Homo sapiens: one gene and its partners. The protein of the gene in region 4 interacts with the protein of the main gene of each other region in a pairwise test. Each region holds a gene or a part of one and is shown on either strand. Other genes may lie near its edges. The genes, in order: LAMP1, MANSC1, KCNJ6 and VSTM1.

What was found.
Region 1: the proteins of VSTM1 (region 4) and LAMP1 interact in binary tests that used the Homo sapiens proteins (3 or more experiments, as listed by UniProt).
Region 2: the proteins of VSTM1 (region 4) and MANSC1 interact in binary tests that used the Homo sapiens proteins (3 or more experiments, as listed by UniProt).
Region 3: the proteins of VSTM1 (region 4) and KCNJ6 interact in binary tests that used the Homo sapiens proteins (3 or more experiments, as listed by UniProt).

What each region holds. Positions count from the first base shown.
Region 1 is NC_000013.11:113,292,450-113,300,250, reverse strand, and holds the start of LAMP1 (lysosome-associated membrane glycoprotein 1 precursor), read right to left. Parts: upstream 3,013-7,801; 5' UTR 2,817-3,012; coding exon 2,756-2,816; intron 2,613-2,755; exon of another isoform or gene 2,514-2,612; intron 1-2,513. UniProt on the Homo sapiens protein: Lysosomal membrane glycoprotein which plays an important role in lysosome biogenesis, lysosomal pH regulation, autophagy and cholesterol homeostasis.
Region 2 is NC_000012.12:12,347,230-12,354,413, reverse strand, and holds the start of MANSC1 (MANSC domain-containing protein 1 isoform 1 precursor), read left to right. Parts: upstream 1-4,171; 5' UTR 4,172-4,336; intron 4,337-7,184.
Region 3 is NC_000021.9:37,906,442-37,913,467, forward strand, and holds part of KCNJ6 (G protein-activated inward rectifier potassium channel 2), read right to left. Parts: intron 1-7,026. UniProt on the Homo sapiens protein: Inward rectifier potassium channels are characterized by a greater tendency to allow potassium to flow into the cell rather than out of it.
Region 4 is NC_000019.10:54,040,299-54,046,897, reverse strand, and holds the end of VSTM1 (V-set and transmembrane domain-containing protein 1 isoform 1 precursor), read left to right. Parts: intron 1-4,340; coding exon of another isoform or gene 4,341-4,408; intron 4,409-4,528; coding exon 4,529-4,621; coding exon of another isoform or gene 4,622-4,671; intron 4,672-4,701; coding exon 4,702-4,729; intron 4,730-4,944; coding exon 4,945-4,982; intron 4,983-5,081; coding exon 5,082-5,119; intron 5,120-5,817; coding exon 5,818-5,937; 3' UTR 5,938-6,073; downstream 6,074-6,599.

The DNA of each region.
Region 1 (7,801 bases), on a different chromosome or scaffold from region 4:
CCTGGGCCTCCCAAAGTGCTGAGATTACAGGCGTGAACCACTGCACCCAGCCGAGTATAAAATTGTTCAAACCTCCTAAGTGACAGTTGTTCAAGTGGAAAGGGTAAGGCGGTCATCCTGCTGACATCAATGGTTTAAAGGGTCACATTACGCAATCACAGCTAATCCTATCTATCAGGACAAGTTTCAGTTCATGTTTGAGCTTTCTAAGTATTCAAACACAGTAGCTTTAAACAATGCCTAATTATTAATATAGTGGAAATTTGTAATTGAGCAGTTTCTTTTTTTAAGAAAAAAGGATTTTTGGTGAAATCGCACATTAAAATAAACATTTTAAATATCTTTAAATGCAAGTTGTTAAAAGGCCTTTTTTAAAAGTTGGATTTTGGCTAGGCACGGTGGCTCATGGCTGTAATCCCAGCACTTTGGGAGTCTGAGGCAGGTGGATCACGAGGTCAGTTCGAGACCAGCCTGGCCAGCATGGTGAAACCCCATCTCTACTAAAACTACAAAAATTAGCCAGGCATGGTGGCGCGCACCTGTAGTCCCAGCTACTAGGGAGGCTGAGGCAGGAGAACTGCTTGAACACAAGAGGCGGAGGCTGCAGTGAACGGAGATCACGCCACTGCACTCCAGCCTGGGTGACAGAGTGAGACTCTGCCTCAAAAAAAAAAAAAAAAAATTCTTGGGCCAAGTACGGTGGCTCAAACCCGTACTCCCAGCACTTTGGGAGGCAGAGGGAGGCGGATCACGAGGTCGGGAGATCGAGACCAGTCTAACCAACATAGTTAAACCTAGTCTCTACCAAAAATACATAAATTAGCCTAGCATAGTGGCGGGTGCCTGTAATCCCAGCTACTCAGGAAGCTGAGGCAGAAGAATTGCTCGAACCCAGGAGGCAGAAGTTGTAGTGAGCCGAGGTTGTGCCACTGCACTCCAGCCTGGGCACAGAGCAACTCCGCCTCAAAAAAAAAAAGTTAAGATTGTAAACATAAAAGATATAATGGAACAGATCTTAGAAGACTGATTACACAAGCAATATTCCAATCACAATATTAGGGAGTTATGGATTTTTTCTCTTCATTTTTAAAGTTAATTTTTTTTTTGTTTTGAGACGGAGTCTCCCTCAGTTGCCCAGGCTGGAGTGCAGTGGCTTGATCTCAGCTCACTGCAACCTCTGCTTCCCGGGTTCAAGCAATTCTTCTGCCTCAGCCTACCAAGTAGCTGGGATTACAGGCGTGCGCCACCATGCCCAGCTAATTTTTGTATTTTTGTAGAGACCGGGTTTCGCCATATTGGCCAGGCTGGTCTCGAACTCCTGACGCCATGATCCATCTGCCTCGGCCACCCAAAGTGTTGGGATTAAAGGCGTGAGCCACTGCTCCCGGCCTGAAGTGAGTTTTTAAAACATGAAACAAAACATCAAAGTTATGAGGCTTGTGAGCATCTGTAACAAAGAACAATGCAGTTGCTGTGACATGACAAAACTTGTTTCTGCAACTCCTTTCATTAACTACACCTGACCCTGTCGCAGGAGCTGAGCAAGGCTTCAGGCTTACTATTGGAATAAGTTCATCTCTGTGGCTATTCAGGCAGTTCAAAGAATTCATTTTACACAACAGGCAAAACAAAAAAGGGAAGCCAAGATCCATTCACTCACAGTAACAGAGTTTTACAGCTGGATGGGACTGAGGGATTTAAAGAAGTCAAGGCAGATGTGTACAGGAGTGTATTTCTATATCTACTTAACTCACACACACTCCCCCAGCTTGATTCTACATCACCTTTCAGATCCTGGCATTTAAGATAATCTTCTCATATTACGGGGGAGGGCGGCGGGGGGAGGAGGTGAAAGAATAGTGTTGGCGGGGGGCAATCCGGACTGTCTTAAAGAGACAGCACACATCCTCTTATTAAGACAATAAATGAGAACGAAATTCACTAGTCAATACAATATTGAGCACCTACTGCCCATCTGAGCTCTATAAACTGACAGAAGAGAAGGGTGCTTCCCCACGTGTTCCCTGGTCCCGCATTTCGGCCTACAGGAACGGCGCTCTTTAAACTACTTACTAGACATGAACATTGCCACCGTGAGTCTGAGGCCAGCTTTCCCTCATCTTGTCTACTACGGAATCTTGTGAAATCCCAAAGATAACTTTAAAAATTATTTTAACATACATGTGAATTCACAATAACATAAATACACTCGCATCTCCTCCACACCGCTGAAAGAGGAGAAAGGTTCAAGTACAAAGGTGGGGAATGCTCGCACCGGCTTCTCCCTGTCCTGGGTGAAATCCATGTTGGGAAGAGCTTGATCTAGGTCACCCACCCGGGAGCTGAGACCACAGACGTCCCTGCCACCTTCGGCGGCGCAGCCTCGTCTAGATCTCACCGCCTCAACTTGCCAGGAAACTTAACGACCTGAAAGCACCAGACCGCCGAGCAAGCCATCGGAAGTTCCCTTTCGCACTCACCACCACAGAAAAACTGAGTTCAGTGAGACAGACCTTAGAGGAGCCAGGTCCTGGGATGAGACCTCCTGGTCCCCCAAGCACCTGCCATTGAGCTCCGCTCCGACCCTACGACCCCGAGAGAAACACCCGCCCGCGGGCAGAGCCGGCCGGGACCAGGAGCAGTGGGTGCGGGGCGACCCGCGGGACAACGACCCGGCAGTCCCCCGCCCTCAAGACCCAGGGACCTCGGCTCCGCCCGGTCCCGCCGCTCCCAGGCCCCGCCTCGACCCCCTCACCGAGCAGCAGCAACAGCAGTAGCAGCAGCAGGGGTCGCCGGGCGCTGCCGGGGGCCGCCATGGCGCGAGGCGGCCGGGTACGGTGCGGGGAGCGGGGGCGCGGGCGGCGGTTGGGCCGCGGACTGCCGGGCGCTGCGGTGGCGGGGCGCGGGCGCCAAGGGCTGGCGTTAGAGACAGCGGCGTTACCAGACGCAAGAGGCCCGGCCACTGCGACGCCGGCACGAAGAAGACACCGCGGCCGGCAGCGCTTGTCACGTGAGCTGCGCCGCGCCCGGGCGTCACGTGATCCCGCGGGTCTCGCGAGAGCGCGCGCGTCGAGCGCCGGCGGCTCGGCTCCCCGCAGGTGCGGCAGCTTCCAGCACCGCGCGCCCCCTCACGCGTGATGCAGGCCGACACGTGACCCGCAGCGGCACGTGACCCGCAGCGGCACGTGACCCTGGACCCACGTGACCCGGCCTGGTCCGGGGGACTGGGGCCGAGCCGAGGTCCTGAAACGGGAAGTGGGCTGGGTTCGCGGAAAAGGAAGAGGAAGAGTAGTGGCGGGAGAAAGTGAGGAAAGAGGAAGCCCGCGAGGGGAGAAAGGGCAGACGGATCGCGGACGCCCAGGCCTCCCTTCAGCCTGCGAGGCGTCCCAAACGCGGGCTCTTTATGGACAGGAGGGTGGTGTGGGTGGCAGCGCGGGTGACCGGCCGGGTGCGCGGCCAGGGATGGGCGAAGGGTTTGTCTTTTGGTGAGTGGGAAGCAAGTTCCTCACACAGGGAGGCCACTGTGCCCAAACTCTTGAGTGGTTTTAGGAAGGAAATAAGGGATCTGAAATGGGTCAGTGCGGCCTTCCGCTCGTTAATCGCGGGCTGAGGGAAGACGGCACCAGGCTGCCCAAGGTGAAGGTGAAGGTGCGATGGCGATACTCTTTGGCTTACAGAAAGTTCCTGTCGAGCACTTTGTTTTTTTTTTTGAGACGGAGTCTCGCTCTGTCGCCCAGGCTGGAGTGCAGTGGCGCGATCTCGGCTCGCTGTAACCTCCGCCTCCCGGGTTCAAGCGATTCTCTTGCCTCAGCCTCCCAAGTAGCTGGGATTACAGGCGTGCGCCACCACGCCCGGCTGATTTTGTATGTTGAGTAGAGACGGGGTTTCACCAGTTGGCCAGGCTGGTCTCGAACTCCTGACCTCAAGCAATCCACCCGCCTCGGCCTCCCAAAGTGCTGAGATTACAGCCCTGAGCCACGGCGCCTGGCTCCTGCATTTTAGAAGTCTGAAGATGCTCTGTTTTTTGGCTTGTCATCATATAGGATTTATGGCCTTTTGTTAAAATACTATTTAATTAAGGCCCCTACGCTACTGCTTTGTATAAAGCACCCGTCGCATAAGTACCTACATCTTAGAAAAAGATTTAATCTTACATTTCAAAAGGCATCATAGCAACGGGGACTGGATGTGCACCTAGTTAATAGAGACAGCACTCAGCCAGATAAAGACAGGACCAGGCACTCACTATCAGTCCTCACCAGAGGACTGTGACCTTAAAAAGGGCGGGATTTGACCAATTCAACACTGGCATTTTGATAGACCCCACCTTGCTGTCACTTGTGCTTAGCACCCTGCATCTGCTGCCTAAGGATCTGCTCACATCAAGGACTTCCTTGGAAGACAATGACTTCTGTCTGGATCAGGCTGGAATACACTCCTTGTTCCCGTCATTGCTTTCCTTGGATTGATCCATTAACCCCTTTTCCTATCCTCTTTCTCTTGATGTCCAATGTTACTTTGTTTGATGGGGAATGTTTAAACCATAGCGTTTGTATTTTAAGTACACTATGATGTATAGTTTGCAGTATTGACTGACACGTGGACTGGCTTGAGCCTTTGCCCATGGCTCTACCAAGTTAACAAGTAGTACTGAAGGGAATTGTCTCGAGGCAACTCCTCGTAGCTCGTGGCTTTTATAATTGAAATAGCATCAATATATTCCCACCCTGTGGAAAGACATAAACGTGTGTGGACCTGGTTATGTCTGACCTTGTGCTGTTCACAACATGCCTTGAGAGAGAAATACTTCTGAACTGAGGCCTCTCACACGATGGGTACAGCAAGTGCTAATAAACTTCTGCTTGTTTCTCCTGTTGCTCTGAATTTTGTTTTCAGGAGAATGTCTCAACTAATAAAGAGAGAAAGAAGAGAAATTATATTTTCTCCCCTGCAGTGGAATGAGACAATTACGCGAAACTCTGGAGGTTTAAATTCGGGGACTCCTCTGATCCACTGCTTCTTAAGGAGGCTAGAAGTAGGGTTTAGAAAGTAGGAGAGGTGTTTGAACAAGCATACTGAATATTACAGTTTTATGGTGCAAAACAAAAACCTGCTTAACAATGCAAAAATAGAATCTAATGCTGGACAAAATCTTGGTTGAAGGAGGTTCAGAGATGACATGATTCCCACACTGTGTCCTAAAGTGTGTATCAGAACGGAGGGAGGGCATTTATCAAAAAAAGGCTCAGAAACACTCATCTAGTCCAAACCATACATATCTGTTCTTTCCTTTCCTGCTGCTGCCCCATGCTCTGGCCATACTCATCTATTTACTTCACCTGTCTCCACTTTTTTGTGGTTACAATTATTTAGACAAAGTGATGCCCTACTCCCTCCCTCCCTTCTTTTCTTTTCTTTTTTTCTTCTTTTTCTGATTCTTTCCTTTTTCTTTTCTTCCCCCTTCTTTCTTTTTTGTTTTGTTTTGTTTTGTGACAGGATTTCTCTCTGTCTCCCAGGCTGGAGTGCAGTGTTGGAATCAAGGCTCACTGCAGCCTCAAGCGGCCTTCCCACCTCAGCGTCCTAAGTAGATGGGACTACCGGTGCACACCATCACACCTGGCCAATTTTTAAAAAATTGGCTGGGATCACAGGCATGCACCACCATGCCAAGCTAATTTTTGTGTTTTTAGTAGAGACAGGGTTTCACTATGTTGTCCAGGCTGTTGAACTCCTGACCTCAAGTGATCCACCCTCCTTGGCTTCCCAAAGTGCTGGGAATACAGGCATGAGCCACCGCGCCTGACCTTTTTTTTTTTTTTTTTCACATTTTATAGCTTTTCTTTGTTTTTTAAGTTAGGAATTCAGTGTGGAATATATTTCCCTGAAGACATTGTTAACCTAAAATAATCAAGAGTCAGAATCTACTTTAAAGAGAGATTATTCAAGTGCAAAGTTTGAGGACAGGCCGCCCAGGAAGCACAGATTCCAAAGAACAGAAGTCGGTGTTCTGAAATGTAGCAGTTTGGGATCATTTCTATAGATGAAGTTTAGGGAAACTTAACACAATTCCAGCATCTTTCTCTCTGAGGGTGAATGCACAGTTACTGTGCTCCGATTAGCCAAGGTGGTCTTTTCCTATTGGGAAAGGTATGTTTGGCGTTCCACACGGACTACGTCACGGGGTCGTCGTGCCATCTAGTCTGAGTTAGGACAGATGCACAGGACAATGAAGGAGGCGGCTGGTCCACAGCAAAGATCAGTAATGGGAAGCGGGGAAGTCTGGTCTCTGGTCTCTCCTAGTCATTTACAAAACAAGAACAAGAGGCTGTGTGGTCACCTGTCAGCCTAACCAGTCCAAGAAGCTGAAGTTGCAAACGTGCTGCATGACTCAGGCCACAGGGCCTAGCTTCCCGCTTGGCACAAGAAACAGGCTCCTGAAATTTTCTTCTGCAGTTTCTGCCACAAGAGTTCAGGTTTGGAAGCTGATACATGGGCTCAGTATTTGAAATAAAGTAGTGGTTGATAGGTAAAAATTGAGATAAGTAGTCTTTTTGTAACAATTCTAAAGGATATTTTAAATAAAAGTAGAATAATATAATGATCCCCGCCTTGCCTACCACTATTACCCGCCTTTCAGTTACTACTTAAAAAATGTTTTTTAGAGGTAGGGTCTCACTGTGTTGCCCAGGCTGGGTTGCCCAACACTGCAGCCTCATCCTTCTGGGTGCAACTGAGCCTTCCACCTCAGCCTCCCAAGCACCTCCAACTACGGGCACGCACTGTCACACCTGGCTAATTTATTTTTACTTTTGTATAAAAGACAGGGTTTGCTATGTTGCTCAGGCTTATTGTGAACTCCTGGGCTCAAGTGAGCATCCCGCCTCGGCCTCCCAAAATGCTGGGATTATAGATGGGAGCCACTATGTCCAGCCCAGTTACCAACATTACGGCTAAACTCACCTTGGGCATTTCTAGGTCACAGTTGGAATCCATGATTTCATCAAGAAGCCCTGGTTTGGGCCAGGCGCAGTGGCTCACACCTGTAATCCCAGCACTTGGGGAGGCTGAGGTGGGAGGATCCTGTGAAGACAGGAGTTTGAGACCAGCCTGGCCAACGTGTTGAAACCCTGTCTCTACTAAAAATACAACAATTAGCGGGCTGTGTTGGCGTGCGCCTGTAATCCCAGCTACTCCAGAGGCTGAGACATGAGAATCACTTGAAACCTGGGAGGCAGAGGTTGCAGTGAGCTGAGATCATGCCATTGCACGCCAGCCTGGGCAACAGAGTGAGACTCTGTCTAAAAAAAAAAAAAAAAAAAGCCCTGGTTTATTTTGATGAAAAATGGTCTTTAGAGATGTCAGAGTCAAAAATGTAGAGATGACTCTCCAAATTTAACGTTTTATTTGGGAAGAAAGCATTGCAATTCAGGTGTCAACTGCAAATAATGAGATTCAGAAAATCTGATTACCTATAGTGTGTATTTGAGTGCAGAGCTTGAGGATGGCCACCCGGGAAGGCACTGACTGCAGACACATGGGGTCAGCGTTTCCAAGTGGAGAAGCTCAGGTTTCACTTACCACGCAGAGACAGAAGCTCCAGCAGGATCACCACAGTTCTCATATGAGACCAGGGGCACACGCCGCAGCGGTTCCATTGGTTAGGGATCTCTGTATTTGAAGGAAGATTGCGTTATGACTCCATGAGGAGGGGTAGTGATCTGAGGGGGTCTTATCTCCGGTGCCATTTGGTCTTTATTGTTTACAGGGAGAAAGGCAGAAGTTGCAGCTGCGTGTGGCATGA
Region 2 (7,184 bases), on a different chromosome or scaffold from region 4:
AAAATCCCTTCTACATGAGCAGCAAACTGTGTTATTGTATATGTAATAACTAGCAATTGAACAGCCTTTTTGAGTTTACAGGTCTGCAGGTCTATATGTTAGACCTGCATAAAAAGGTCTATATTATGACCTGCGTGTAAAGTAGATACCACTTTCCTAATTTTACAGAAAAGTTAAGTGATTTATTCTTGGTCACACAACTAGTGAGTGATAAAACCAGGATTCACGTTTTCAAAACTCATCATGCCTCTGTCCACTCCAGACTGACTCCTCTTCCCGTGTCTTTATATGACCTGGTACTCCCACCCAACCAGGCTCCCAAGCCAGAAGCCTGCTTACTGTCAGCACTGCATCCAACCAATCGTTGTGTCCTGGAGAGCCTCTCCTCTTAATTTCTCCTCTATCTGCATGCCCATTTCAGGGCCTTATCACTTCCGTTTCTTGGAAGAGAGGCCTCTGGCCTCACGTCCCTCAATCCATCCCTCCTGTGGCAGGTAGAGATAATTTTCTAGAATATTAATTAGGTCTCTGGACCTGTCACTGCCCTACAAAAAGCCTTCAGGAACTCCCCATGCCTTTAGGATAAAGTTTAAGATTTAACATATGAAAACCTTCCTGCTCTGACCCCAGCCTCTCTCTCTATTCTTCTGTGTACACTGGTAACCTTCCTAACAGGCTGAATTTCCTGTGGTCATGCAGTTTCCTATTCCTGAAATATTCAGCCTTTTCCTCCTCATCTGCTAATAACTTCATTCTTCAATAATTAACACCTCTTCCCAGAAATTGGGATCAGATGTCCCTTCTCTGAGCCTTTTTAGTTGCCATCTTCTATCATAACATTTATTCTTTTCTTGGGGAGGGCAGGGACAGGGTCTCACTCTGTTGCCCAGGCTGGAGTGCAGTGATGCTATCATGGCTCACTACAGCCTCCTAAGAGCCTCCTAGGCTCTTAGGAGATCCTCCTGTCTCAGCCTCCCAAGTAGCTGAAACTACAGACGTGTACCACCACACCATGCTAATTTTTATTTTTTGTAGAGATGGAGTCTTGCTATGCTGCTCAGGCTGGCCTCAAACTCCTGGGCTTAAGTGATCCTCCTGCCTTGGCTTCCCAAAGCACTGGAATTACAGGCATGAGCCACTACACCTGGCCTTCATCACACTTAACTGTTTACACAGCCATTGATTTACTTTTTCTCCTTCTGAACTATGAACATCTTAAAGGTAGATCTCATTGGTATTACTGGTCTTTAGTTTCCCCTGCAGGTGCTTAATACATGTTTTTTTTTTTGTTTGTTTGTTTGTTTGTTTGTTTGTTTTTTGAGACAGAGTCTCACTCTTTCACCCAGGCTGGAGTGCAGTGGCTCGATCTCGGCTCACTACAAGCTCCACCTCCTGGGTTCACACCATTCTTCTGCCTCAGCCTCCCCAATAGCTGGGACTACAGGCGCGCGCCACCATACCCAGCTAATTTTTTGTATTTTTATTAGAGACAGGGTTTCACCATGTTAGCCAGGATGGTCTCGATCTCCTGACCTCGTGATCCACCCGCCTCGGCCTCCCAAAGTGCTGGGATTACAGGCGTGAGCCACTGCGCCTGGCTGCTTAATACATGTTTTCCGATTACTTTTAAAGAAATCTTTCTCCACATAGATGGGACTTCTAACCCTCAGAGAAGAGTGTCAAGAATCTCTTCAGGAAATGAAGTGACAATGGATATAATTTCTAAGTTATGACTCAGGCCAGAAATTAAAGTTTTTATTTTATTTTTAAGTAAGCCAAGTGCAGTGGCTCACACCTGTAATCCCAGCACTTTGGGAGGCCAAAGCAGGAGGATTGCTTGAGCCCAGGAGTTTGAGACTAGCCTGGGCAATGTAGCAAGACCTCATCTATACAAATAATTTAAAACACCGGGTACGGTGGGTCACGCCTATAATCCCAGCACTTTGGGAGGCCAAGGTGGGCAGATCACTTGATGTCAGGAGTTCAAGACCAGCCTGACCAACATGGTGAAACCCCGACTCTACTAAAAATACAAAAATTAGCTGGGCATGGTGGCATGAGCCTGTAATCTCAGCTACTCAGGAGACTGAAGCAGGAGAATTGCTTGAACCTGGGAGGCAGAAGTTGCAGTGAGCTGAGATCGTGCCACTGCACTCCAGCCTGGGCAACAGAGCGAGACTCCATCTCAAAATTAAAAAAAAAAAAAAAATTAAGAACATTAGCTGGGTGTGGTGTGCGTTTGTGGTCCCAGCTACTCAAGAGACTGAGGCAAAAGAATCACTTGAGCCCAGGTGGTCAAAGCTGCAGTGAGTCGTGATTGTGCCATTGCACTCCAGTGTGGGCAACAGAGCGAGACCCTGTCTAAAAAAATGAATAAATAAACAATGATATTTATAAATTAAACATATATAATAGAAAATATTTCTTTAATCATTATTTTAATCAATATCCTTTGTTCACTGTCATAACTGAAAAAATAACATATCACTTCAATGAAAACAGGTTCAGGCCGGGCACAGTGGCTCACGCCTGTAATCCTAGCACTTTGGGACGCCGAGGCGGGCGGATTGCCTGAGCTCAGGAGTTCGAGACCAGCCTGGGCAACACGGTGAAACCCCATCTCTACTAAAATAGAAAAAAATTAGCTGGGCGTGGCGGCATGTGCCTGTAGTCCCAGCTACTCAGGAGTCTGAGGCAAAAGAATTGCTATAACCCGGGAGGTGGAGGTTGCAGTGAGCCGAGATCACACCACTGCACTCCAGCCTGGGCAACACAGCGAGACTCCGTCTCTAAAAACAAACAAAACACAAAACAAAACAAAAAAAGAAACAGGTTCATTGTATTAAAGCACCGAATACGAAGTTTCTAATAATGGAAAGGTCTACTTTGTAACTAGCATGGATTACCCCATGTAGAGAGATTCAAAAACTGTGATAGCTCTACACCCTGAACCCTGAAGTGTATCAGATGATAAAAGATAAAACACACTTGCAGATCAGTCCCTTGTTGCATCAGGAAAATCACTGCAATGGGAAATTACTCTGGTGTTTACTTTTCTTTGGTAACTCTTTCAAACCTAGCTTTAGCAACATTGTAATTCAAGAGTCATCCTTTGGTTACAAGTAGAGTTAGTTTCACACAATGGACCTTTGTTCACAAGCATTCTCAGTCAACCTAATCCTCCTGTAGTTATTGGTTAAGACTAGGGTGTGTAGCTGTTGGCCGTACAGGCCTAGACTTAACTTGCAATTGCATAGCGCTTCAGGTCTGCAAGCTCTTTCAAAACAGAGGTGAAGATACTGTCAAAGGTTAGACCATATGGCAAACTAAGTGTCAATGGTTTAGTAACGTTGCATTTGTGTGTGTGTTTATGGAGGTGGGGATGGGGCCAGCAGTAATTTAGAAACTTCCACAACCTATGCCCTATGCAGTTCTTTTCCATTCATTCAGTCAACAAAAATATTTTAGTTAAATATTTACTGAGCACCTATTGTGTACCAGGCACTATGCTAAGTGTTAGGGATACAGTTTTAATATATGTTACAGACACCAGCATTTTCACCATTATTATCCTATCTACAAACAATAAATCCCGCAGAAAGCCAAATACCTTCCCTGAAGTTTGTCTTGCAGATAATATTTAACTCAAGAATTGCCATCTTTAATTGAGGACTCCATCCTCCAATTATGGAAAGAGGATTCTCAGAACTATGCCCCCAATAGGATGCACTATAAGCCCTTGAACATCAAAAAACTGCTCTCAGTGGTTGCCTCTGAGGAGGGAGACTAGGAGACTGGGGCACGGGGGTGAGGGGTAGACTTGTCTCTGTGTCTATTTTTGTACTGTTTGACATTTTCCCCATGTGCATTTATTTTAACTTGCGCGGGCCGCGAGGCAAGGCTCACCTGCAGACCCTCGGGCCACCAGCAGGGAGGCACGCACTCCCCCTCGCAGCGCGCCCAGCCCGGGGTCAGCGGTGTGGCTGAGCTGGGGGGGAGCGCGGGGCGGTGGGGGGAGCCACCTCCCTGCGGGGCTCAGCGCTGGGGCCGGGAGCCCGGAGCCTCCGCGGGGAGGGACGCGCTAATGTTGCCGGGAAGCAGCTCCGGGTTGCAGGGCAGGAACGTGCCCTTCCCCCGCGGCAAACTTGCCGTCGCTGCGACGGAAGCAGGAACTTGCTAACCACAAAACCCGCCAGGCCGGTGCGGGAGCTGCGGAGCATCCGCTGCGGTCCTCGCCGAGACCCCCGCGCGGATTCGCCGGTCCTTCCCGCGGGCGCGACAGAGCTGTCCTCGCACCTGGATGGCAGCAGGGGCGCCGGGGTCCTCTCGACGCCAGGTAAAGGGGTCTCCCCAATACCCACCCCCGACCGGCCGCAGGCGACGTCGCTACCTGCGGAGAGAGTCGGTCCCCTCCTTTCCAGGGGCCGAGGCTCCTTCACCCACACCCGAGCATCCAAAGGACCAGCTGGGGCCAATAAGGGCTGACCAGGATCCTTGAGTCGCTGCAGTATTCCAAAGGGGACCTCTAGGCGGGCTCAAGGCACCTGCCATAAATGGCTCTGGCTCTGCGTTGACATCAGAAGGAGAGGCAGAAGAATAGCTCAGTAGGCAACATGCATTTCCTCAAAGGAAGAGAAAATGTTCCCTGTTTTCTTGTCGTTGACTCTGTATTCATTATTGAAACTGCTAATTGTCTAATTCTCTGTAGAGTGTGTGTGTGTATACAGTTATAAGCATCTTGGTAAATTATAGTGTGCTGTAAGACGATTTCCAATATTTGAACTAATTACGTGCGAGTAAGTTTTAGCGACTCTTGTATGCAGACGTTAAAACTCAGGGGCATCCTCTCTCACCCGCCTGTATCCTTTTACCCCGTCTTTCAACAAGATTCAACTCGACTTCAGGCCCTTAAAGCCTAAATAATAATGGATTAGAAAACGTCGCTAACCTAATATTGCTGAGCCTCTTTAATGATATAAAACTCTTAAACACTTCTCTCAATGCTGCATACTGAAAACAACTCCTGCCCCATCTCCTTACATAGTTCAGGTTTCTTTGCAAAAGCTTGAAAAGAGGCTACATTAGAATCCATTCAAAATAAAGTATTGGCCTGGTTTTCTCTTGATTCCCTAGAGGCTTGCAAAATATGGCAGCGTATTAAGTACCTTGGCCAGAATTATTAACCTGGGGAGTCCACGATAAGGTATCCATGGATAGAATTCAGGATGTCTGTGAACTTGAGTGGAAAAAATTATTATTTCACCGACTTCTGAAATGGAATGTAGGCAAAAGCCACAGTAGTATTAGCAGTAGCTATGATTTGCCCCCTGTAAATATTGCCGATATCTTTATATCACATGACTTGTTGCACGTTTCAAAATATTATCTATACTCAATACCACGTCAAAATTATGGCAGTTATTAGATGACCACTTGTTACTTAATAGGTTAATAAAGAAGCACATATTATGTCCCACAACTTTTTGTAAGTTTTAACTAAAATGAGGATAATAATGGGATCTGTAAAGATTAAATGACATGATATATATAAAGTGCTTAGCATAGAAACTGGCATTTTAGACGCAATAAATGTTACTATTTTACTGTATACAGAATTTTGACAAACAGCAAGAAAAGTATTAGACTTGTGTTTTATTACCATATACTGGTTTGTTTCTGGGTTTTTTTTTTTTTTTGGTTTTACCTTTTTTTAAAACTAAAAGTCCATAGTTCACATAATGTTCACTCTGTGTGTTTTACATTTCTATGGGTTTTGACAGATGTTCAATAACATGTATCCTCCATTACAGTGTTATACAGAATAGTCTCAATGCCCCAAATATCCCTTGCACTCCACCGATTCATCCTCCCACTCCTGTTCTCCTGGTGACCACTGGCCTTCTTACTGCCGCTGTAGTTTGCCTTTTTTAGAACGTCATACAGTTAGATTCATATCTGTTCAGACTGGCTTCTTTGACTTAGGAATATGCAGTTAAGATTCCTCCATGTCTTTTTGTGGCTTGATAGTTCATTTATTTTTATTACTGAGTAATATTCCAATGTATGGATGTATCTCATTTTGTTTATTCATCTATTGATGGGCATCTTGGTTGCTTTTAGTTTTTGGCAATTATGAATAAAGCTACTACAAATATTCTATTGCAGATTTTTGTGTGGACATAAGTTTTCAATTCATTTGAGTGAATACATAGGAGGACAATTGCTGAATTGTATGGTAAGGCTGCATTTAGCTTGGTAAGAAACTGCCAAACTTCTCCCAAAGTGGCTGTACCATTTTGCATTCCCCAACAGCAATGAATGAGAATTTTTCCTTTTTTTTTTTTCTTTTTTGAGATAGGGTCTCACTCTGTTGCCCAGGCTGGAGTGCAGTGGCATGATCTCGGCTCACTGCAACCTCCACGTCCCGGGTTCAAGCGATTCTTCTGCCTCAGCCTCCCAAGTAGCTGGGATTACAGGCACCTGCCACCATATCTGGCTAATTTTTGTATTTTTTTTTAGTAGAGATGGGGTTTCACCATGTTGGTCAGGCTGATCTCAAACTCCTGACCTCAAGTGATCTGCCCACCTTGGCCTCCCAAAGTGCTGGGATTACAGATGTGAGCCACCGCGCCCAGGCGAGAATTTCTGTTGCTCCATGTCCTTGTATTTGGTATTGTCCATTTTTTGGATTTTAGCCATTCTCATAGGTGGGTAGTGGTATCTTGTTTGAATTTGCAATCCCCTAATGACATATGATGTTAGATACCTTTTCATATGCTTATTTGTCATCTGTATATCTTCTTTGATAAGGTGTCTGCTCAGATCTTCTGTCCATTGAGTTTCTTTTCTTATTGCTGACTTGAGTTCTTTGTATATTTTGGATACCAGTCCTTTATCACAGGGTTCCCCAACCCCTGGGCCGCAGACCAGTACCTATTAGGAAATGGGCCACACAGCAGGAGGTGAGCAGTGGGCCAGAGAGCAAAGCTTCCTCTGTATTTACATTATGCATTACTGCCTGAGCTCCACCTCCTGTCAGATCAGTGGTGGCCGTAGATTCTCATCGGCGCACGAACCCTGTTGTGAACTGCACATGTGAGGGATCTAGGCTGCACACTCCTTATGAGAATCTAATGCCTGATGATCTGTCACTGTCTCCCATCACCCCCAGATGGTACTGTCTA
Region 3 (7,026 bases), on a different chromosome or scaffold from region 4:
AAACCTAAGCCAGTAGCTCCCACCCTTTAGAGTGCATCAGAATCCCTGGAGGGGATGGGCAGATGATTGGCCCTGTCCTCAGGGTTCCTGATCCAGTAGATCGGGGGGTGAGCTTGAGAATTTGCATTTGTAGCCAGCTCCCTGGTGATGCTGCTGCTGGTTCAGGGACACACTATGGGAACCACTGACCTCAGCTGACTTTCATCAGCTCTGATGCCTCCTTTTGTCCACAGAGACCCCCAACAGTGGCCAGTCAAGGAGACATGTGGAGTGTGGGCTTGGGCCCAACACTCCTTGAGTGCTGATTAAAAAAGAGGGCCACCTAATGCGGCCTCTCTTCCAATGACAACACATAATGTCATAGGTTCTTTATTTGCCGTCCTCTTTCTGCCCTCTCTTTATATGCTTTACTACTGTGGGCCCAGCCACCCCAGGAGGGCTAATGAAAATTTAAGAGGGTGAATATGTTTAGGGTATTGACTGGTGAGACCTTGGGAGACAGCTGAAGAGGAAGGAATCTACCCCATTCGTTGCCATTATTGAAACTAGATTTCTTGAGAGGAGGAATTATATGTTAGTAGCACTATATTTTGCACGTTAGAGATGTCTAAAAATCTGAAGTGTGCTCTGCCTAACTCGTCATGGAGTCTTGGCTCTGAAAATGTTGTAAGGTGATGCAAAAACCTCCGAAGAGAGATTTCATTCCTTGTCTTTTGACTGAAGGTAGTGTGTTGACAACAAAAAGCAAGGGTAAAGCTTTTCCATGAGCAGTGAGTCCTGTACCCTTCCTCTTAGTCATGTGATGCTGCTTAGTCATATGATTACTGCATTCCAGACCTGCTCTCATAGACACAAGGTTCGTGTAGGGACTGAGATATCATTTTTGGTTAAATGTGATTCATTTTTTTTATAGAGAAATGATGGCTCCCTCAGTCATAAAGCAATGGCCCCATAGAGTGGTGAGGTCCAGTCTGATTTGTTGACTGAGCCTGAAGGGCATCGCTTCTCTCATAGCCATTAGAAGTGCTCTGTGTTGCAGAGACTTTGAAATACATACACTCCAACCCCAGTTCCTAGCTCTCTCAGCTTCTTTATGCTTCTAGTGACAAAGAATTCAGAGCTGTGTAAATGCAGAGAAGACAGATCACATTACCTCTGCCCCGCTCTGACTACTGAAAATGCTTTCTTATATTGAACCAAAATATGTCACTTTGTAGCTTCCACTGCTGGGTCCCACTTTTATCCCTTAGAGCCCAGCAGAACAATTATAATCCTTCCTTCATCTTCAAATATCAAGATACCTGAAAACAACTATCATGCCTCCTCCCCCACATATTCTCCAGGGAAAACACTCCTAATTCTTTCATCTACTCTAATATTACATGGTTTGGACTCAGGTACTGTCCTGCCTATTCCCTTCTGCACATAGATTGTTGGATTATATCCCTTTTAAATTGAAATGATTGAATGTGGCAGTGAAATAAATCCTGTCCTCAAAAACATTCTCTTCATTAAACAGAAGTTCCACTATGAGACATTATTTACTTTGGAATGGCAAGATATTTGAAGAGGTCAAGAGTTTTCTAATCCAGTATTACTGCCCCATGGAAGGATTAACATGCATTACTGGTATTTACTGTTTCATTTTGATAATGTTTTCCCCTGCATGAATGTATGTGGCTGTGATATCTGAGTTAGGGAAATGGAAACGATGTAAGAGAACCGGAAGTATTATGGATCACCACTCTGTTTCTTCTGGTTCTTCCTCTCATAGTCTTCTCAGATATTTCTCCCTGACATTTCTCTTTTCTAGGTTGTAAGTTTGGCATTAAAGCTGTTCTTTTGCTTCTAGTGAAAAGGTATGGAACTTAGTTTCCAAGTTTTCTCCTTGAGGGAAGCAGAGGTTCTCAAACACTGCTTACAAATTACATGGTCTATTTTCAGGAAAACAATGACTATTAGTAGACTAATTCAACCTAAACTTACAGCATGTATCTAGCCTATGGACATTTAGGGGATTTAAAACAAAATGCAAATTGCTAGTCAACAGCAAGTGCCAGATATTAGAAGACAGCATCTAATTCTTCAGCATTCTTAGACACAATGTGGGTGTAATTGTCAAGATTAGAACATTGCTTTTGAGCATGGGTTGTGAAGTTGGCTTTTCTCCTTTGTGTCTACTTTAACAGATCAGCTAACAGAAATCAAACAATATGTATTTGCATCTCTTTTGTTAAGAATCATCTACACCTACTCCAAAAGTCAACATATCCCAACTAATTTATTTTAAAAAAATACACCACTAAAGAATGATTCAAGGGCACCAGGAAATATTGTCTCTACCAGGAATCTTTTCACCACTGGGACAAATCATTTCCTCTGCCTTACTCTATCCTGATTCACATTAGCTGTATTTCTTTGCTGCCAGACATTTATATCGGGCATGCATACCAAAGACTCCAGTGTGTTCACCCTACCAGTTTCCCTCCTCCTGGATATAGAGCTGAACTACAATTTGCAGCTGCTCTTGCAGTTAGGTATGACCATAGAATATGAATAGGAGTGATATACATTACTTCTAGGCCCGGATCATTAAAATCTTCTACATAATCATCTACTCTCCCTCTTTCCTTGTCTGCTAGTTGGATATCACCACTCAGCAGATCTTAGAAGCCATGTACTAAAGATGACAAAGTGTCCCTCAGCCTGGGTCCTTGTACGGCATCAACCAATTAGATTTATGTGAAAGAAATCTTCTATTTTGTTAAATTAGTGAGATTTAGATATTTTCTGTTTCAAGAACTTTCTAATTAATACAGTATACACAGGCTCATCAAGAACTGAAGTTAATGCCACATTGCAATAAATGAATAAAAACATCTGCTATTTTTAAAGTGCCTACTTTGTGCTGGACACTGCACAAAGAACTTTTTTTTTTTTTTTGGAGACAGAGTCTCCCTCTCACCCAGGCTGGAGTGCAGTGGTGTGATCTCAGCTCACTGCAACATCTGCCTCCTGGGTTCAAGCAATTCTTGTGCCTCAGCCTCCTGAGTAGCTGGGACTACAGGCATGTGCCTCCACACCTGGCTGATTTTTGTATTTTTAGTAGAGATGGGGTTTTGCCACTTTGGCCAGGCTGGTCTCAAGTCATCTCCTGGCCTCAAGGGATCCACCTGACTCGGCCTCCTAAAGTGCTGGGATTATAGGTGTAAGCCACCGCTCCTGGCCTGTGCTAAGAACTTTACTTACATTATCACATGAATCCTCATAACATCTCTGAGGTATATGTTGTTATTATTACTCTTATTGTTATTATTTTATGATAGGGAAAGCAAGGCATAAAGTTGATTAAGGTCACATAGTTAGCATAGTGGATTATATTATTGCCTCCAATTATTCTCTTCCCTCTCTGAAAGATTAGATGTCTCTACCTGTTGCTGCACGGCTTGCAGTGCTTCACTGTGGGAGAAATATACATCTCCTTCCCATTGATCATTGACACTGATGTGACATGTGAATTGTCCGGTCAATGGAATGTGAGTGGATAACTTGTGCCATGTCTGAGCAGAAATGTTAAGGGCCATTGCTTAACTTGGGAGTCTCCTTTTCCTCTGATACTGGGATAGAGTGTTCCAGACCAATTCTTGATCTTGAATTCCAGAATGAAGTCACAGGAGCAGAGCCACAGCTGACCAGCAGAGGCATAGCGCTCCAGAGAATAATACGCCTTTGTTTTGTAAGCCACTGAGATGCTGGGGTTGCTGTTACTGCCCCAAACTTGGCAAAAATGGACAGATACACCTAGACCTTGATGCAGATTCAGTTAGTAAGAAACACCGGAGCCTGTGCTCTTAATCACGGAGCAACACCGCCTACCAAGCACATTGTCAAACTTGCACAAGTTCCTGCTAGATGATACAAGAGAAATTTAAAGCATCATGAAAAAAATCAATTCTTATCCTGGATAAGAAAAAAGTAGATGTCTGTAAGTTTAAAGAGGAAACTGCCACAGGATTTAAACTTAATTTATAGATATGTCTCTCACATTGCATATAATACCTTCAGATTTAGTCCCACAGAACAGTTGTTGGCAAGGACATGGATCTTTTTAGCCACAGATGCACTTTCTGGTTCCTTTTGTAAGGATTTCATGTCGGAAACCACATCTCTGTGACTGGGAATAAGACCGGTGATACATGTTAGCCAAAATCTATTCACTAAAAGAATCACCAGTACTGTATGATTCCTGGTCCTAAGCACAGCCATACAGAAAAAATGAGAAGCATGAGACTCAAGGAGATAATGGGTTTAATCTGACTTGGATACATTTGTATAGACATAAATTAGTCACTTGGTTAAAATTTAGGGTTAACTTTACACATTGTAATTGGGAAAATTGATTGATGGCCTTACTGCATTCCATATAAAATCAGATCTGAATGACCATTTGAACATTGCACACTGCACAAAATCATTCTCTGAGGTTTTGTTTAAACAATGATTCAATTTAGTAACAAATAAATAAATGAATATTTACAACTGATTAGCAGGTATGATTAGATCAAAGCTATAGTTTAGAGAGGATACAGACTCTTCTTTTAATGATGAGACCGCTCTTTGAGGAAAATAATTTCACTATTATTTAATGTTATTAAAATGATAGCAAGTATATGTATATTCTAGTACTTTGCCAGAGGAAATTCAGAATACCATTAGAGCACTAACTGCAATTGTGATTATCTCTTCTTTTTATTGGAGCCTAATTATTTCTAGAAATAATTATTTAAAATGCACTTCAAAATGTATTTTTATCCTAAACAGCTACATTTTATTCTTCTATCTCTCCAAATACTTTCACTAAAATTAAAAAGAAAACTAACTCAACAAAAGTGTTTTGATGATTTTTCAACTTAACTGCCAATTTCCCCCTTACTGGTATTACCAAAGTTAATAATTTTGTAAAACTCCAGAGTGAATCAATTATCTTTTGGTACTTAAATGCCAATTATTGAAGATAAAATGAAGAAACAAGAAATGCCATCTCAATAAGCTATAAATCCAAATTCACTGAATTTAAACATCTTAATTCCACCAAACTTAAAGTTCTAATACAATGAACTTAGAAAAACCAACCTCACTTTGAAAAGTATTGTCAGTTTAAAGCTGGTAGCAATAAGTAACTGCCTTTTCCCCTCACTTTCTTCTTTCCTCCTACTCTGCCTATTTCTGGTCCATTTCCATTTCCATATTACTTACATATCATTTGATAAAGGAAGAACTGGTGAAAAAGAGAAGAGCTTCACCTTATCTGCCTGCCTTTCCATAAAGAGCATTTATCTTGTTTTCATTAAGGTTTACATGGTCAACATTAAACCCTTGAGAACAGCAACATTTTCTACCTGTGAAAATCAGTGAATGGGGTTAAGATTCCATAAGGGTATTTTATTTTTAATCTCCAATGAATTTTTTCTATAACTTCTTAAATAACTATTCTAATTTTTTTCCCTATAAAGTAGAGGTAGACTGAGATGATAGGGAGGAATATGAGACTGAGTTAAAAGCCCTTCTATATTCTCAAGGAAAATAGTTCATGTAAGTCCTATGTATTAAATAAAGACCTGTCTCACACAAAGGAAAACATACTAATGTTTAGGCAATATCTAGATGAGGTAACTATTGTTTAGGCAATACCTAGAAGAGGTATCAAAATGATTTTTTAAAATAGCAAAATGGAACCAAGTGAATGGGGGCGAATTTTCACAAGTTGCTCTCCTTAACAAATCTTACTTGAAATGAGTAAACCAATTATTTTGGAGTATGCTATTGACTGAAAAGGGCATAGTGACACTTTGTTAATCAATTAGCCACCTAGGAAGAAAGCAAGTCATAGTTCGGTGAATAAGCACTGAATATGTGAGCATGGAAACTACCAGAAGTAAAGATTATTGACTGAACAATTTCATATACCTAGATTATTGACACCACCCCCCTTTTTAATTTATTAGAGAAATTGAACTTTAGAACTCAGAAATACATTACTTTGTTTATCTAACAGTCTATATTCTCGTATAGCTTCATCCTCATAATGAACGTCTACTTCCCTTCTGCTGATAATGTCAGATGGAACAAGGCCAAGGAACAGCTGCGTTGTTTAATACTCCACGTGTCACTTCTTCTGTCTACTTTAGGTAGCAACCTTTTCATAAACTAAATTATGGATAAACTTGTCAATACCTATCAGGAACTGAAATGTAAGAAATAGTGTAATAACTCATCCTTTTGCTTAGGTTTGAAATAGATTGCTCTGTCTTCACTAGCAATCATTTGAAAAGACTGGAAGGTAGAAACACACTGCTTTAACCACATCCTGAGTGCTCAGCATGCAATATCTTTAGAAACAACATGTCACACTTGGAAAGCCCAGCAAGGAAAACCAGGATCATATCTTGTTTACCATTAAAAATAACAAACCAGAACCAGCTCAAGACCTCATGCACAAGTGCATCCACAAAACAGGAAAGCAGCCAGGGATATTGTTGAAGCTTTATCAACATTTCCAACCAGTTGCCAAACCTTGACTGGGCTCTGCAATTCAAAGTATACCTTGTAACACCTGGATGGCACTCTGACAGGCATTCTATTTCAAATATGACTGTCACCTTCCTGTATTATTTTTCCTCTTCATATCAGTGACAGTTGTGGTGGTGGGGGACCTACTACCAAGGATGAGAGCAGGGCAAAGACCAGCTTCTCGTAAAGTGAGAGCAGAAGGGCTTGATGGACTTACCTGTTTTCCCTGTATGAATGTTGAAATGGAACTTGAATGGTAATAAATCCTCCCCTCCTGCAGTTTCTTCCTTGTTTGTATTAAGAGAAGTGACTCCTCTCGGTTTCCTACGACTGCAACCTAGGAAATGTAGCCACCTTGCTCACACGCAGGCTTGAAGATGTGATCACTGGCTCTCATCTTGCTAACAAACTCTCTCTCCTTTTCGGAAGCTCACCAGTGTTGTTTTGATTCCTTCC
Region 4 (6,599 bases):
GGGAGTGGGGAAGAAGGGCTGGGAGGAAAATAGATTAAACAAGTGTGGGATATCTGTGTCCCTCAGATGGTATCTTTGGCTCCATCCTGCAGAAAGCAGTGGAGACAGAGAAGGTCGAAGACCAGAGGCTAGGGAGCTGGGGTCCCCACAGCCGTCAGTGGCAGTTTGTCCCGGGCATGTAAATTCCAAGGCATTTGGAGTTCTCCCAGGCAGTCCCCCAAAGAAGAGATACAAATGTTCACTTTGGAAAGGGAAAGAAGCCACGATCTAGAATGCATAAAAATGGGAAAGGGATCTGGGGAACATGGGTTGAGGAACATTGACAGAATCTATTACAGAGAGAGATGGGTGTAGGTGGAATATTGGGTGAAAAAAAATCATCATTATACCTACAATCCCATTATCCGACACAATGAGTCAGTTTCTAGACTGAGCGCTTTAAAGCCAGGATTTTTCATCATTACCTAACTCTTCAAGTTAGATATTATTAGCTCTCTGCCCCCTCCTTATATTTAACCAAAAAATAACGTATTCCAGAAAGGGAAGGGAACATTTACAAAGTCAGGAGGTAGGAGACCCAGTACTAGAACTCAAATATGTCTTGTTTCAAACTCCCCACTCCTTTTGCTGCTCCCTGATGATCAGCTCAGAAAGAACCTTATTTCAGGGAGGGGGATAGATAGATAATTAGATGTGATAGATAATAGGCAAGTAGGCAGATAAATAGATAACTAGATATGATAGATTAGATAGATACATAGATGATAGGTAGATAAGTAGCTAGATACGATGGACAGATTAGATAGATAGACAGATGATAGGTAAGTAGGTAGATAGATAACTAGATACAACAGGTTAGATAAGTAAGTAGATAGATAACTAGATATGATAGATTAGATAGATAAATAGACGATAGGTAAGTAGGTAGATAGATACAGATAGATTAGCTAGCTAGCTAGATGATAGATAACTAGATATAATAGATAAGATAGATGATTAGATAGACAGATAATTAGATATGATTGATAGATACATTAGATAGATGATAGATTAGATAGATAGATGATAGGTAACTAGGTAGCTAGATAAAGCTAGCTAGATAGATAGATAGATATACAGATACACAGATAGATACATAGATACCTAGATAGGTGATAGAGTTGCAAGATAGAAAAATTAGATAAGTAGGTGGATAGATAGATAGATAACTAGATAGAATAGATTAAATAGATAATAGTAGGTGAATAGACAGATACATACAGATGATAGATGATAGATGATAGATAACTGGTTATGATTGATAGATACATTAGATAGATGATAGATTTGGTAACTAGATGATAGGTAAGTCGGTAGATAGATAAGTGATAATTAGATATGATAGGATGGATAGATTAGACAGACAGCAGGTAAGCAGGTGGATAGACAGATAAAGATAGATACATAGATGCCTAGATAAGTGATAGATTAACAAGATAGAAAAATTAGACAGACAGATAGTTAATTACATATGATAGGATAGATAGATTGGATAGGTGATAGGCAAGTAGGTAGATAGATAAATCATAATTAGATAGGACGGATAGATTGGATAGATGATAGGTAAGTAGGTACAGAGACAGATAAAGATAGATAGGTAGATAGATAATAGATACCTAGACAGATGGTAGATAGATTAGCGAGATAGATAAATTAGATAGGTAATTCTCTATATATAGATATGTAGAAATGCCAATGCAAACATAGCGAACCAAGTAGGGGAAGCGTCTGGATGGGAGACCCTCTGTTGGTGCAGAGGACCAGGCGTGTGAAGCATCTCAGACTTGGCTCTGTAATGTGACCACAGATCATTGCACACCTAGGAAAAATTCTCAGACTCAAAGCACACTAACAAAGATAGCGGGGGTCTTGGTGAAGCCCCTTTCTGGGGCCTCACTTCTATAGTTGCTCAACTTTTTTCCTTAATCACGTTTCTGCTACTTACTCCTTAAAGTCTCACGACTTGTGTTTCTTGAATCTAAAGTGCCAAGAAAAACAAAAAACGGGGGGGAACTGCATGGACTCTGTCGCCTAGCTTTAGTAACAGGTTGCTCTCTCTTCCTCAACGCTGTGAGCTTTGGACACAACCCTTGCTGTAATCCCAGGAGTCACACGGGAATGCATGCCCTTCACCAGTGGGAGGGAAATAATTGTACTACCTTGCAGGGTTGTTGTTAAGACTTTAAAACGCTATGATGTAGACTTGCATGGCAATATTGCTCAAGAACTAGTTTTTTTTGTTTTGTTTTGTTTTTGTTTTTTAATTGGTAGAAATTTTATCTCCTGAGAGGGATGCTTTTTTGAGTTGGAGTCTTGGTCAGTTGAGTGTATGATGCAGTGATGCGATCTCGGCTCACTGCAACCTCCGCCTCCCAGGTTCAAGCAATTCTCTTCTCTCAGCCTCCTGAGTAGCTGGGACTACAGGCGTGCGCCACCATGCCCAGCTTATTTTTTATATTTTCAGTAGAGACAGGGTTTCACCATGTTGGCCAGGCTGGTCTCGAACTCCAGACCTCAAGTGATCCACCTACTTCACTCTCCCAAAGTGCCAGGATTACAGGCGTGAGCCACCGTGCCCGGCCACTGGTCATTCTTTTCTACCCTGCTCTAACCCTGTTCTTATTAGGAATCCTCCCTGAATTCTCCCAGCTGATCCCTTGTTCTGTGTCTTGGGGAATCATGTCTCCTTCAGAGAGCCCCACCCCTCCCCACTCTAAACGCCTTCCATGCCCGTGTCACTGCTGTTCATTACCTGGCATCAACGAGCTCATTGAAGTGTGTTTGAAGTTGGCTGGGCGTGGTGGTCTGTACTCCCAGCTACCCTGGAGGCCGAGTGAGGAGGACCACTTGAGCCCAGGAATTCGAGTATGATCACACCACTGCACTCTAGCCTGGGCAACAATGGGAACCCATTGGCACATCTGGGATTGGCATCCTGAGCTCCCATCTGTGACCTCCCTCCTCTCCCCTCCTCTCCCCTCCATTGCCCTCACCCTCTCCCCATAATCTTCACATCCCGTCCTTTCACATCTCTCTCTCTCCTTTAAAAAAAGAAAAAGGAAATATGTTTGAAGTTAAGAGCTGAGATCATGTCTGTGTTAGCCAGGGTTTTCCAGAAAAACAGAACCAATAGAACATATAGATATAAGCTGGGTGTGGTGGCTCACGCCTGTAATCCCAGCACTTTGGGAGGCCGAGGCAGGCAGATTGCCTGAGGTCAGTAGTTCAAGACCAGCGTGGCCAACATGGCGAAACCCCGTCTCTACTAAAAATACAAAAATTAGCCGGGCGTGATGGTGGGCACCTGTAATCCCAGCTACTCAGGAGGCTAAGGCAGGAGAATTGCTTGAACCCGGGAGGCGGAGCTTGCAGTGAGCCAAGATTGCACTATTGCACTCCAGCCTGGACGATAAGAGTGAGACTTTGTCTCAAAAAAAAAAAAGAGAACATATACATGTATATACATATATGGAGAGAGAGATTGATTTTAATGGATTGGTTCACGTGATTGTGGGGAGCTGGCAAGTCTGAAATCTGCAGGGCAGGCAGGCAGGGGATCCAGGGGAGACTTGATATTGCAGCTTGAGTCTGGAGGCAGAATTCCTTCCACCTTGGGGGACCTCAGTCTTTTCTCTTAAAGTCTTAAAGTCTTCAACTGATTGGATGAGGCCCACCCCTATGACAGTGGGTCATCTGCTTTACTCAAAGTCTATTGGTCGAAATGTCCAGCTCCAAGGAAGTTCCAGCTCCAAGGTGGGAGATCCAGGCTTGGAAGCCAGGCCATCTGTCTGGCTTCTCTTAGCTTTTCTACTCACCCCATCAGTGGATTTCAGACAGTGATTACACAGACAGATGTGGTGGCTCACGCCTGTAATCCCAACTACTCAGGAGGCTGAGTCAGGAGAATTGTTTGAACCAGGGAGGTGGAGGTTGCAGTGAGCCAGGATCACACTCCAGCCTGGGTGACAGAACACGACTCCATCTCAAAAAAAAAAAAGTGTGTATATATATATATATATGTATATATATATATATATATATATATATATATACACATTTATATATACACACACATATATATACATTTATATATATATATACACACACACACACGTATATATATATATGGAGCACCTGGAACAGAGCTGGCTCACAATAAATGATCAATATCATTGCTATGCACCAAACATTCCCTGGGAATTTTTGGAATTTCCTATGCGCCAAGCACTGTTCCAGCCCTTTCTATAGGTACTGACCCACCATCCAATAAAGTAGCTACTGCTGCTATCCTCACTTTACAGATGGGGAAACAGAAGCTTGGAGAAGATTAAGGAAATTCCCCAAAGCAATAGGAAGTTCCAGCTCCGAGGTGGGAGATCCAGGCTTGGAAGCCAGGCCATCTGTCTGGCTTCTCTTAGCTTTTCGGCTCGCCCCTATCAGTGGATTTCAGGAGCCAGGCTGATTCCCTGACCTGCTCTTCCCCCTCCAGACACCAGAACCATCTTTGTCGCCATCTTCAGCTGCATCTCCATCCTTCTCCTCTTCCTCTCAGTCTTCATCATCTACAGATGCAGCCAGCACAGTGAGCTCAGAGAACGCAAAGGGAGAGAGGGGGAGTGAAGGATTTTCTCGGTAGGTAAATTCCTCCTGCATTTTTTGTAGGTTCATCATCTGAGGAATCCACCAAGAGGTAGATGCTTGGCATAGCTCATGCTCCACTTATTCCCATGTCATTCTCAAGGGAACCCATTGGCACATCCGGGATTGGCACCCTGAGCCCCCACCCCAGCCCATTCTGTGACCTTCCTCCTCTCCCTTCTTCTCCCTTCCTCTCCCCTCCATTGCCCTCACCCTCTCCCCGAAATCTTCACATCCCATCCTTTCACGTGTGTCTCTCTCTTTCAGAACCAGCCATTCCAAACTTCCGGAGCAGGAGGCTGCCGGTAAGGGACAGGGGAAGTTTAAGGGAATCACCGGATAGAAAGACTAAGTTCTGACTTCTGCAGCTGAGAACTGATTTTTTTTTTTCCTTTCTCACTCAGAGGCAGATTTATCCAATATGGAAAGGGTATCTCTCTCGGTGAGTCCTCCCGCTTAGGAGTCCCACAAGAGCTCCCTCACCACAATGGGCTGGTCGTGTGTGCCTCCTGGTTAAGCCCATACAGAAATGTATACTGTTTATCACGCATGTGGTCTTAGACAAGTCACGAAACTCCCCTAATGGGAACCAAAATCTCCATTTAAAAGGCTTATGCATGGGCCGGGCGCGGTGGCTCACGCCTGTAATCCCAGCACTTTGGGAGGCCGAGGCGGGCGGATCATGAGGTCAGGAGATCGAGACCATCCTGGTTAACATGGTGAAACCCCATCTCTACTAAAGATACAAAAAATTAGCTGGGCGTGGTAGTGGGCGCCTGTAATCCCAGCTACTCAGGAGGCTGAGCCAGGAGAATGGCTTGAACCCGGGAGGCGGAGGTTGCAGTGAGCCGAGATCACGCCACCGCACTCCAGCCTGGGCGACAGAGCCAGACTCTGTCCCAAAATAAATAAATAAATAAAAATTTAAAAAAAATGAAAAAAGGCTTACGCAGATCCATTGATGTCACAGGCATAAAGGGTTATAAAAACAGAAAAGAAAAAGAAATGCATCTGGTGTGACCGAGGACCTGGGTTTTAAATTAAATTTAATTGTAATTAACTTAAATGTCAATAGCCATGTGTGGCTAGTGGCTGCCATATTGAACACTCAGTTCTAATATTCATCTATTTTCTCCAAAGACGGCAGACCCCCAAGGAGTGACCTATGCTGAGCTAAGCACCAGCGCCCTGTCTGAGGCAGCTTCAGACACCACCCAGGAGCCCCCAGGATCTCATGAATATGCGGCACTGAAAGTGTAGCAAGAAGACAGCCCTGGCCACTAAAGGAGGGGGGATCGTGCTGGCCAAGGTTATCGGAAATCTGGAGATGCAGATACTGTGTTTCCTTGCTCTTCGTCCATATCAATAAAATTAAGTTTCTCGTCTTAAAAAGAAATCTGACTTATTTATGGATTATTCATGCCCAAGAACCCCACCATACTCTTTCTACCCCACATTTCCTCCTAGAACAATTCAAGGAAATAATAAATAATGATTGACCAGCTATCCAGGAAAGAATGTAAGAATTACTGAGCATCTCCAGGAAGCACAACAAGCAAAAAAGAAAACGGCCGGGCTCACGCCTGTCATCCCAGCACTTTGGGAGGCCGAGGTGGGTGGATCATCTGAGGTCAGAGTTCAAGACCAGCCTGACCAACATGGTGAAATCCCATCTCTACTAAAAATAAAAAATTAGTTGGACGTGGTGGCAGGCGCCTGTAATCCCCGCTACTTGGGAGACTGAGGCAGAAGAATCGCTTGAACCCAGGAGGCAGAGATTGCAGTGAGCTGAGATGGCGCCATTGAATTCCAGCCTGGGCAATGGAGTGAGACTCCATCTCAAAAAAAAAAAAAAAAAAAAACAAAAAACGCCCAGAGCTGCAAACTCCTAGACCAGAGGGCAGAAAACAAAAGGACCAGAG